3 linked regions of the Homo sapiens genome follow. The protein of the gene in region 1 interacts with the protein of each later gene in a pairwise test. Each region holds a gene or a part of one and is shown on either strand. Other genes may lie near its edges.

Evidence for each region.
Region 2: the proteins of RRBP1 (region 1) and SMAD9 interact in a two-hybrid assay, tested with the Homo sapiens proteins (one large-scale study listed by BioGRID and IntAct).
Region 3: the proteins of RRBP1 (region 1) and ATF7IP interact in a two-hybrid assay, tested with the Homo sapiens proteins (one large-scale study listed by IntAct).

The regions. Positions count from the first base shown.
Region 1 is NC_000020.11:17,658,179-17,661,907, reverse strand, and holds part of RRBP1 (ribosome-binding protein 1), read left to right. Parts: intron 1-1,379; 5' UTR 1,380-1,400; coding exon 1,401-3,312; intron 3,313-3,729. UniProt on the Homo sapiens protein: Acts as a ribosome receptor and mediates interaction between the ribosome and the endoplasmic reticulum membrane.
Region 2 is NC_000013.11:36,875,193-36,878,921, forward strand, and holds part of SMAD9 (mothers against decapentaplegic homolog 9), read right to left. Parts: intron 1-3,729. UniProt on the Homo sapiens protein: Transcriptional modulator activated by BMP (bone morphogenetic proteins) type 1 receptor kinase. SMAD9 is a receptor-regulated SMAD (R-SMAD).
Region 3 is NC_000012.12:14,498,182-14,501,681, reverse strand, and holds part of ATF7IP (activating transcription factor 7-interacting protein 1), read right to left. Parts: 3' UTR 1-3,500. UniProt on the Homo sapiens protein: Recruiter that couples transcriptional factors to general transcription apparatus and thereby modulates transcription regulation and chromatin formation. Can both act as an activator or a repressor depending on the context.

The sequences.
Region 1 (3,729 bases):
GCCCTCATGTCAAAATTTGGATTTGATTCCTACTCTGTTTCCTTCCTCTATAACCACTCAAGAGGAGTGGGGATCTCAATGTCTTAGGAGAAGAATCTCAGTATCTGAGCCACTAAGCAGCCTGGACCCAGTCTCCCACAGCATCTAGAGGTTTTGCAGGGCAATGCTGGGGGAGGCCTGTCCACTTCCCCTCCTCTCCTCTTCCACCTCCTTTTACCTCCCCTTAACCACCCCTTCTTACCCTTGTGTTCTCTTTGCTCATTCCATCGATCTTCTTTAGAGAGACTCGGGACTGGCTTGAATGTATCCAAATAAATACACCTCCTGGAGTTCCTCAGTGAAGTCGAACTTAGCCCGGGCTGTGGCAGGAAGGTGTATGAACCTGGATGCCTCTGACCCATTGGACTTTGGTCCATAGGCAGTGAGAATGGTGTTGTTCATTCTTATGGTTTGGGGAGTGTTGTCTGACAGAGGGGCCTGCTGACACTGTCTCCTCACCCTCTGTGCAGCTTCTGGATGTGAAATTCCAAACCTGGCATCTTCTGGGCCTCCCAAGACTGATTCTTCCTGTTTCCCAACATGCAAATTGCAGGCTCCATAACTCCTCAGGAGCTATTGCTGGCAAAAGGCTATTTTCCCTCACTGAATTTTTGAACACGTTTCAGGATTGTAATGCAGAAGTTTTTATCTCTGATCCTGGGTAGCAGCATTTATTGGCACTGGGGAAGAGGGAAACAACAGAGTGGAGATGGCACACTGTGGGCCTGCTGGCTAAAATGCTTGTGGCTGAAAGCCTGCAGATGTGTTTGGTTTGGTTCGGTTCACATATTTTTTAAATCAGTCAATTTCACGTTGAGAGAAAAATTTTTTAAAAGTGTCTGGCCTAACATGAAAAATCAAAACATCTTCCAACTCAGCAATCACATTTCTAGGGCAATCGGCCATGACAGAGTGTCACTGTCTAATTTTAGGTGGGGGCGGGTGTTTTTACTACAGTCTCCACCACTCCCCATGGTCTCACACCTGGCCTGTGTTTGTGCTCCTGTGCATCTTTGACCTTGGGTGGGGAATATCTTGCATCAGGGTCATGGCTGCTGAGGCTCCTGGGCGTGTGTGCTCCAGAGATAGGCCTCCACTCTGCTCTGACTCTGCTGTTGCTTTGTATGGGGACTGCTCATGCCTTGGGTACGAATCGCTCACTCCTAAAGAGGAGCAGGTGAGAATGTGGGACATCAGAGAGTGCCTGGGTTTGTTTCTTCTCTGAATTTATTAGCCTGAAGAAAGAATTAGTGAAACCTGAAGTTTGGTGGTAGGGTGGGGATAGAAACTGTTGAAGGCCTTGATTTCTATAAATAGTAACCTCCATGTATGTTTGACAGGTGAAAGGAAAGCAAGCCAGGATGGATATTTACGACACTCAAACCTTGGGGGTTGTGGTCTTTGGAGGATTCATGGTTGTTTCTGCCATTGGCATCTTCCTGGTGTCGACTTTCTCCATGAAGGAAACGTCATATGAAGAAGCCCTAGCCAACCAGCGCAAGGAGATGGCGAAAACTCACCACCAGAAAGTCGAGAAGAAAAAGAAGGAGAAAACAGTGGAGAAGAAAGGAAAGACCAAGAAAAAGGAAGAGAAACCTAATGGGAAGATACCTGATCATGATCCAGCCCCCAATGTGACTGTCCTCCTTCGAGAACCAGTGCGGGCTCCTGCTGTGGCTGTGGCTCCAACCCCAGTGCAGCCCCCCATTATCGTTGCTCCTGTCGCCACAGTTCCAGCCATGCCCCAGGAGAAGCTGGCCTCCTCCCCCAAGGACAAAAAGAAGAAGGAGAAAAAAGTGGCAAAAGTGGAACCAGCTGTCAGCTCTGTAGTGAATTCCATCCAGGTTCTCACTTCGAAGGCTGCCATCTTGGAAACTGCTCCCAAGGAGGTGCCGATGGTGGTGGTGCCCCCAGTGGGTGCCAAGGGCAACACACCAGCCACTGGCACTACTCAGGGCAAAAAGGCGGAGGGGACTCAGAATCAAAGCAAAAAGGCTGAAGGAGCCCCAAACCAGGGCAGAAAGGCAGAGGGAACCCCAAACCAGGGCAAAAAGACAGAGGGAACCCCAAACCAAGGGAAAAAGGCAGAGGGAACCCCAAACCAAGGCAAAAAGGCAGAAGGAACCCCAAACCAAGGCAAAAAGGCGGAGGGGGCCCAGAACCAGGGTAAAAAGGTAGATACAACCCCAAACCAGGGGAAAAAGGTGGAGGGGGCCCCAACCCAGGGCAGAAAGGCCGAGGGGGCTCAGAACCAGGCCAAAAAGGTAGAAGGGGCCCAGAACCAGGGCAAAAAGGCAGAGGGGGCCCAGAATCAGGGCAAAAAGGGAGAGGGGGCCCAGAACCAGGGCAAGAAGGCCGAGGGGGCCCAGAATCAGGGCAAGAAGGCCGAGGGGGCCCAGAATCAGGGCAAGAAGGCCGAGGGGGCCCAGAATCAGGGCAAGAAGGCCGAGGGGGCCCAGAATCAGGGCAAGAAGGCTGAGGGGGCTCAGAACCAGGGCAAAAAGGCCGAGGGGGCTCAGAACCAGGGCAAAAAAGTAGAAGGGGCCCAGAACCAGGGCAAGAAGGCTGAGGGTGCCCAGAACCAGGGCAAAAAGGCCGAGGGGGCCCAGAATCAGGGCAAAAAGGCCGAGGGGGCCCAGAACCAGGGCAAGAAGGCCGAGGGGGCCCAGAACCAGGGCAAGAAGGCCGAGGGGGCCCAGAACCAGGGCAAGAAGGCCGAGGGGGCCCAGAACCAGGGCAAGAAGGCCGAGGGTGCTCAGAACCAGGGCAAAAAAGTAGAAGGGGCCCAGAACCAGGGCAAGAAGGCTGAGGGGGCCCAGAACCAGGGCAAGAAGGCCGAGGGGGCTCAGAACCAGGGCAAAAAGGCCGAGGGAGCCCAGAACCAGGGCCAAAAAGGAGAGGGAGCCCAGAATCAGGGTAAAAAGACAGAAGGGGCTCAGGGCAAAAAGGCAGAAAGGAGTCCCAACCAAGGCAAAAAAGGAGAGGGAGCTCCCATCCAGGGCAAAAAGGCAGATTCGGTTGCTAATCAGGGCACAAAGGTAGAGGGTATTACAAACCAGGGGAAAAAAGCAGAAGGGTCCCCCAGTGAAGGCAAAAAGGCAGAAGGGTCCCCCAACCAAGGCAAAAAGGCAGACGCAGCTGCCAATCAGGGTAAAAAGACAGAGTCAGCTTCTGTCCAGGGCAGAAATACAGATGTGGCCCAGAGCCCAGAGGCACCAAAGCAAGAGGCTCCTGCCAAGAAGAAGTCTGGTTCAAAGAAAAAAGGTGAGCCTGGTAAGTAACTGATTTCTTTATGAACTTAGAAGGAAAGGCTGTCTTTAAATGACTTATGGATTCTCTCGGGGAGTGCCACCTGTATCAGTCAGCTATTGTCATAATAAGGCTGCGTAACAAACATTCAAAAAAAAATTCAGTGGCCTTCAACAGCAGTCATTTATTGTTGCTCATGCTTCTGGAGGTTGGCAGATGTGAGCTTTCTCGGTTGGTGGCTCTGCCTCAATCTGGTTTTAACTGGGTTGGTGACTCTTTGCTACAGGTTGAGCTCAGGTCAGTTCCATGTGTGGTCCTTCTGGCGCCCTCCAGGGCAGAGGCCCTTCATAGTTACAACAGAGGCACAAAAGGGCATTTCAAGTCAGCATTTCATTGACCAGATCAAGTGATGTGTCTGAGCCTGAGTCAAGGGGCAGGGAG
Region 2 (3,729 bases), on another chromosome or scaffold:
AACTGCTCTAAAAAATAAAGTCTTAAAAAAAGGTAAATGTTTTGGAATAAACAGACAATTACAATAACAATGACATTAACCCCGAAGTCTGCCATCTGCCTTTGACACCATACATCTATCTCTTTCTTAACAAACAATAATTTTCAGTTATATGGACAGAAAATAAACTAAGAAGGGTAAATAAAAGGTTTTAAACTAAAACTGCTACAGGTGAGGGTGGCAGAGAAACAAATAATTTCTTCCCCTTTTCTAAGCTATTGTATACGTATGCTGCCTTATGACACCAGAGAACAAACATTCAACATCACCATCAAACAGTGACATGGATCATAAACCATTAAATTCCCCTTAATGTATTCATATTCCACAACTATGCAGGAAAAAAAAAGATTATGTGCCTCATGAATAGTCTGAAGTGAGGAGTTGACACAGCGAATGTGTATGGCTTCTTTGTCAATGACCCTTCATCAAAATGTTAACGATGTTCAAGTAAACACTCACTTCTTTATGAAGAAGAATTTGAATCATCTCTGTGACTTCAGTTTTAATGTAAAATATCTACGGTATATTCCTAACACTGATAAAAATATAATGCCTCCTATCCATCTGAATGTAGAGACTTCTATTTCTTCATGGCCTGTAGATCTGAGGCACCAAGAGAAAAGAAAGGATACATTTCCCTTTATCATAACAACTATCTTGATAATATATTTTTACCATCTGGGTAAAATCAAAGCCAGTGGATGTTTGCAAAGAAAACTGATAGTTTCATCCTAGTTGTTATTTGACCTGACTGGCTCCGTTGCCTTAAATGTGCACTGATCATATTTTTAAATACTTTCACTCACAACACAGCTATCCCTAATTACTTAATTCCACTTCCACATCTCAACTGCTGCTTGTAAATATGACAGTGCGCTTACAGACACTCATGCCTATCTTATGCCACTTTTAAACACCATGCTATCTTTACATCTCAGTGTCACACGGGGGGAGACAGCGGAAGGAGTTACAGGGCACATGGGCATGCAAAGCAGAGCTGGAAAAAAAACACTTCTGTCTTTTTAAAAAAAGTCATGTGGTTTTGATATAATATGAATATTTTATATAAAAAAGAAATTACACTCCTGAAATAACCTCCAGCCAAATGGAGTAAAATCATCATGTACCACAACAACAGTCTTGCATGGCTTCCACCAGAACTGTGCCAGGTAAAGTGTGTCTGAGGACTGGGGACCCTTCACCAACTGTTGGGTACGAGTCTGTGAAGAAATTAGTACTTAGAAACTTTTCACAGCAATTTGACAGAGTTTCTAGTTTACACTTGTTTAAATAATTTTTAAAATTGGGCTTATATTTTCTAAGTCTTTTTAAAATTTCATTTGCCTAGTAATTTGTCTGTACTATAAAAGTGTTCGTTTGAAGGACTGGAAATTAAAAAAATAAAAACTGATCCCTCACCACACATAACTTGGAAAGCACTGAAGTCAATTATTGAAGTGGATGTGTGAATGAAAAGAAAATGGGAATGCAGCCTTCAATGTATCTAAAATGGATGGCTAAAAAATGAGATTTCAAAGGCAAAACTTAAGCTTTATGATAAATAGGAACTCAGCAAACTTGTTTAACATTAACATTTTTATTATTCCTAAAATATTTACTTTAAATATGGATAGCTAACTAGATATAAAATCTACTTTTTCTATTAAAAAAACACAAGTAAGAAAAACCTCTGTAACTTAAATATTACCTTAAATTAATATAATCGTTACCCATCTTTCCTTCTGGAAATTCACACCTAAATTATGATAAAATGAAATATATTTACCATATGTAAAACACTCACACTATCATTCCTAAAAGAATCTTACAGAACATGAAAAACTAAAGGCCAGGTATGGTGGCTCATGCCTGTAATCCCAGCACTTTGGGAGGACGAGGCAGGTGGATCATGAGGTCAAGAGATCGAGACCATCCTGGCCAACATGGTGAAACCCCGTCTCTACTAAAAATACAAAAAGTAGCTGGGCATGGTGGCACGTGCCTGTAGTCCCAGCTACTCAGGAGGCTGAGGCAGGAGAATCGCTTGAACTGGGGAGGTGACGGTTGCAGTGAGCAGAGACTGCGCCACTGCACACCGGCCTGCCAACAGAGCAAGACAAAAAAACAAAAGACATGAAAAACTAAAATGTCAAATAGTTCTTTAAAATTAGGCTTTTGAATATTCAAAAGGAAAACCAGGTACATTTTACAAGATATTTCTTACAAGTTGTTAAATTTTACAACTACATTATTCAGGAAGACAGAAATGATTTATTAATGAACATTTTTCCATTTGGATATATTTTGGATGCTTAATGTAATTCAAATCTTTGAAACACAAAATGGAATCCAGTCATTTTTGTTATAAGCTTAGACATTATTGACTTTTTTTTTTAAGTAAGCGAAAAGAGTCAAAATGAACCAGGGAAGAAGGGTGGAAAGCAACTCGCTCCAGGATTTAGGGGAAACGCATCAGATTTGCCAAGCATGTGGAACCTTCTAATACCTTCTCAGCCAGGGCCTCAGTCCCTGAATGGGCTGTGGGAGGCATCCACACACAGGTAGATGTTAAGTTCTGGGAGCTTGAAGGATCACTTAGCTAAGACTGAGGTAGGCTGGGCATAAATCACTTATTGGATACTGTTTTAAGGTTAAGTGAACCTGCCTACGTAGACAGGACCATCTCTTCACTGGACATGGGCAATTTCCCTGAGCTAATGTGCCAGCGCTTTGGTTTCCTGGGATGAGGCAGATGGCCAAAGAGAGAAAGCTCTCCTAAAACTGTGTTCTTGTGTGAAATGCCACAGAAACACTCAATCTAAGAGAATCACAGTGAAACCCTGTTATAGCCAGTGTGAAGGAACAAAGACAAACACCAGGCTTCTCCAAGAGGAGGAGGAAATATATACATATTTCTTACACACATATATATAATATACATACACACACACACACACACAGGGGTGTGAAGGGTTTTAGAAAGATACTTTCCTATACAATCATGCACTGTGTAATCATGTTTTGCTTGAGGGACCAATATAAGACAGTGGTCCCCCAAGATTATGATACTGTACTTTTGCTGTACCTCTTCTATGTTTAGATCTGTTCATATACATTCAATACCATTGTGGTTAGGATTGCCTACAGTATTTAGTACAGTAGCATGCTGTGCAGGTTAGTAGCCTAGGAGCAATAGGCTACACCATATAGCCTAACGGTGTAGCAGGCTCATGGTTTGTGTAAGTACACTCCAGGGTGTTCACACAAGGAAGAAATTACTTACTGATGCATTTCTCAGAATGTATTTCCATCATTAAGTGATACCTGTCTGTACTTAAAACCATTTTTAAAAATAACTGCCTGGAATGATTTCCAGCAACTCTTTCATTGGCTGTTTTCAGACCTAGACATGAGATATCTTCTACTTACCTGAACTTGAACAAAGTAGCAGCCAAAAACCCTGCCTTAGTTCAGTTTAGTACAGTTCAGTTCAGTTGTTTGGGGCGGGGGGAGGAGGATGTTTAATTTTTACAGCTCATCATTATCAAGGCCATTTTAAAACCTTTCAGGACCCCAAGAACTGGTAAAAGATTATGTTGACTTGTCCCAGATACCTCAAAATAAAACTTTTATGGCAGTTTTCTCCGATTAGCCATCTGCCTCATTTTCAAAATCACACAAAGCTTA
Region 3 (3,500 bases), on another chromosome or scaffold:
CTCTCTGTGAGGCAAATGGTATCTCAACAAATACCGACTTTTCAAGGAAGAAAGCTCTCCACTTCTCTCATAAACTTATATACTACCTTAAACAGTATGCAGTATTCGGCATATTTTTTAAAAATGAGTCCAGAGAAATAGAAGGATATAGTTACCTCATAAAGTTAACTGTTAGCAACAGACGTCTTCGTATGTGATTTATAAATTTCTTGGCAAGAACAAGATTTTTAGAAGAGGCTTACTCACACTTAAGACAGAGTGAAAATTACTCTCACAGAATGCAAAGTATAGAATAATAAACATCACCATTACCTTTAAATGCCATACAAACATCCTACATTGCAGGTTGCAGTATCAGGTTTCCAGAATTTCCAATAAGGCAATACCTACACAAATATTGCCAGGCTAAAAATGTAGCAAACTTGCATTCCCAAACTGGGAGAATCTAGCTTATTTGTAATACTTTGTGAAAAGATACTATGAAACTAAAAAGGTAACCGTGGAGTGGAAACTGCTACTAGAAAGTCTGTTATCAGTAGCTACTTCTACTTAAGTCCTCCATTCTCTCCCAGAAGAAACAAACCAAACAAAAAGCATCTATCAATATTAAAACCTGCCTCAATAAAAGCCTAGTGTTCTAACTTAGCACCTCTAGTAAATCTAATATAGCTGCTGCCCCTACGTGCCATGGTAGGCTAATTTGAGGACACCATCTTATAATAAATATACTTCTCCCCTAAATAATTGCGATTTCTCCCTGTACCTTCCTTCCAACTGGAATAAAACATTTTAAGTAGTTATTTTACTTTAGTAAATATTTTTAGAATTCCTATTTGAGAATTTGTTTTCCTTTGACAGAAAACATAATATAGGCTAGGCTAATGAATTTTTTTTTTATTCTACTGGGCTTTCTTCATCTGATTATATAATGCTATGAAAGCTTTTTTTAAAAAAGATTAGTAAATATAAATAAAAATGTTCATCAAGAGAACCTTTTGTAGGTTAGGTAAGAAAATTGTTACCACGTGACCATAAAAACACCCAATAAAGAACAATTTGAACATGGGCCTTCAGTTTTGTAGACAGGAATAATCTTGAACACATATCAACATTGCAACCACTGCAGGTCAAAACATATACATGCAGATATAGACAGGTGTTCATATACATCTAGAAGATCATCAACTCCTCCTTTCTGAAATTTTCATTGCCATAACACTGGCAACTTCTTTACCATCATCATTAGTCCTAGAATGAGTAATATCTACATAATTGGTTGGCAAATTTGATTTATAGCATACTCCTTTGTGGTCTCATTTTCTGAGAGTGAAAGGTGGTTTGGAGAATTAATTTTTTGGCAATCTATAGGCTTTCTTCATCATGAATCAAATCTCACACCTCAGTATACTGACCAGTCAAAAGTCTCTAAAGAGTTTTCTTTACAACTAGAATACTTCCTATTATAAGCCATCAAAGTTGCAAACAAAACAACATTAGTAAAAGAGCTCCCTCCTGTAATTCTAGGAAAAATGAATCACTATTTTGAGAAGGTACAAATATGAATTCAAATATTGTAAAGGAAGAGGACTTCGAAGTTATTTCACAAACTCCATAAATTCCTTTCAAAATATTCTCAACCACATTCTCCTCCTAAAACTTAACTCAGCCCTCCAGTCCTAAATTATCTACACCCAAAACACCTACCTGACACCAGTACAGCTGGCCCTCATATTAAAAATCCATGACCTAAGCTGAATTTTAATAACTTTGAAGAGGAACAGAGAGATACACAGGAGGTTATATCTAATTGTTACATAAAATGACCTCAAAGGATATACTTTAAATTCTTTTTTTTTTGAGGCAGAGTTTCGCTCTTGTCTCCCAGGATGGAGTGCAATGGCGCAATCTCAGCTCACTGCAACCTCCGCCTCCCGGGTTCAAGCGATTCTCCAGCCTTGCCTCCTGAGTAGCTGGGATTACAGGCATGCACCAACATGCCCAGCTAATTCTGGGATATACTTTAAATTCTATCCAAAGCTAACAATGGGTACATCAGACTCAACTTGGCACCATCAAAACAAAGTTAAAAGGTTAAAATGGGAAGGACGATAAAGAGAATAAAGAGGAAATGAAGCTTTCCCCTTGATATTTTAGCTCATTCTATATTGTAATCTTACTATTTGCTTCCTTTGAAAGAATACTAAGGAGTTAGTGTTGGGTGATAGCTTTGGGTGATAAACTGAACTAGAATGGTTTTCATAATCTCTAACACAGTGTGCAACACGGATACTAAAATGTGTGAAAAACTGTCTTCCACAATATGGTTTTCTCTTGGTCCACTTTACACAAAGTTAAATAGTGACCAAAAATAAAAGCATCTATAGTTTTAGAAGAAAATAGCACGTCAAATTTTTGGAGTTAAATGTGATTGTCGCCACCATGCCCGGCTAAGATGAGACTATGCATGCACCTGTGTGTGTGTGTACATACACATCCATGTACATACACACACCTTGGTTTAAAAATCACTTGAGTAGGCTGGATACAGTGGCTCACAACTGTAATCGCAGCACTCTGGGAGGCCGAGGCGGGTGGATCACCTGAGGTCAGGAGTTCAAGACCAGCCTGGCCAACATGGTGAAACCCCATCTCTACTAAAAATACAAAAATTAGCCGGGCATGGTGACAGGTGCCTGTAATCCCAGCTACTCTGGGGCTGAGACAGAAGAATTGCTTGAACCCAGGAGGCAGAGGTTGCAGTGAGCCAAGATTGTGCCACCGCACTCTAGCCTGGGCAACAAGAGCAAAACTCCATCTTAAAAAAAAAAAATTACTTGAGGAGTTGTGCTATATTTGGTAGAGATGAAGGAGAAATCAAGGGTAAAAGGCTGCAAGGGAAGACTAAGCAACAACGGACATATGGCCATATTTATTTATTTATTTTTGGCCATGTTTATCTTTGTAGTTAATCTTTAAGGCACAAAATAAATGTAAAAGCCAGATTAGGAAAGGGAGGGGGCCATTGCAGATCTTTTTTCACCTAATTAACAACTCAGGAGACCAGACAAAAGAAACAACAAATAGATCCTTTCCTGTGTTCGAATTAACCTATTTTAAACTATTTAGCCATTTTGTTTTTTATTTATTTCTTTGGGTTTTGTTTTGATTCTGTTTGACCCACTTAACTAAAATGATACTATAGATCCTTCAAAAGCAGAATCATGCCAGTTACACATCTCAAATCCTTTGATCTACTTACTTCGTACTTTAAGAGGTAAATTTGAGAATGAAAATGGGAGACTCCAATGCAATAACACCTACATAAGGAAAAACACACATAAACACCCACACATATTCCCCAGCCTCAAAACTAAAGCAAGGTACACATTTACATTTCCAAACCCCAAAGCCTAAACTGTCCAGGAAAAGATTCTAGCTTTGTGGGCTGAGTTTATTTTGCTTCTGGTTATAAACAAATGTAGTGTATACACACATCTGTC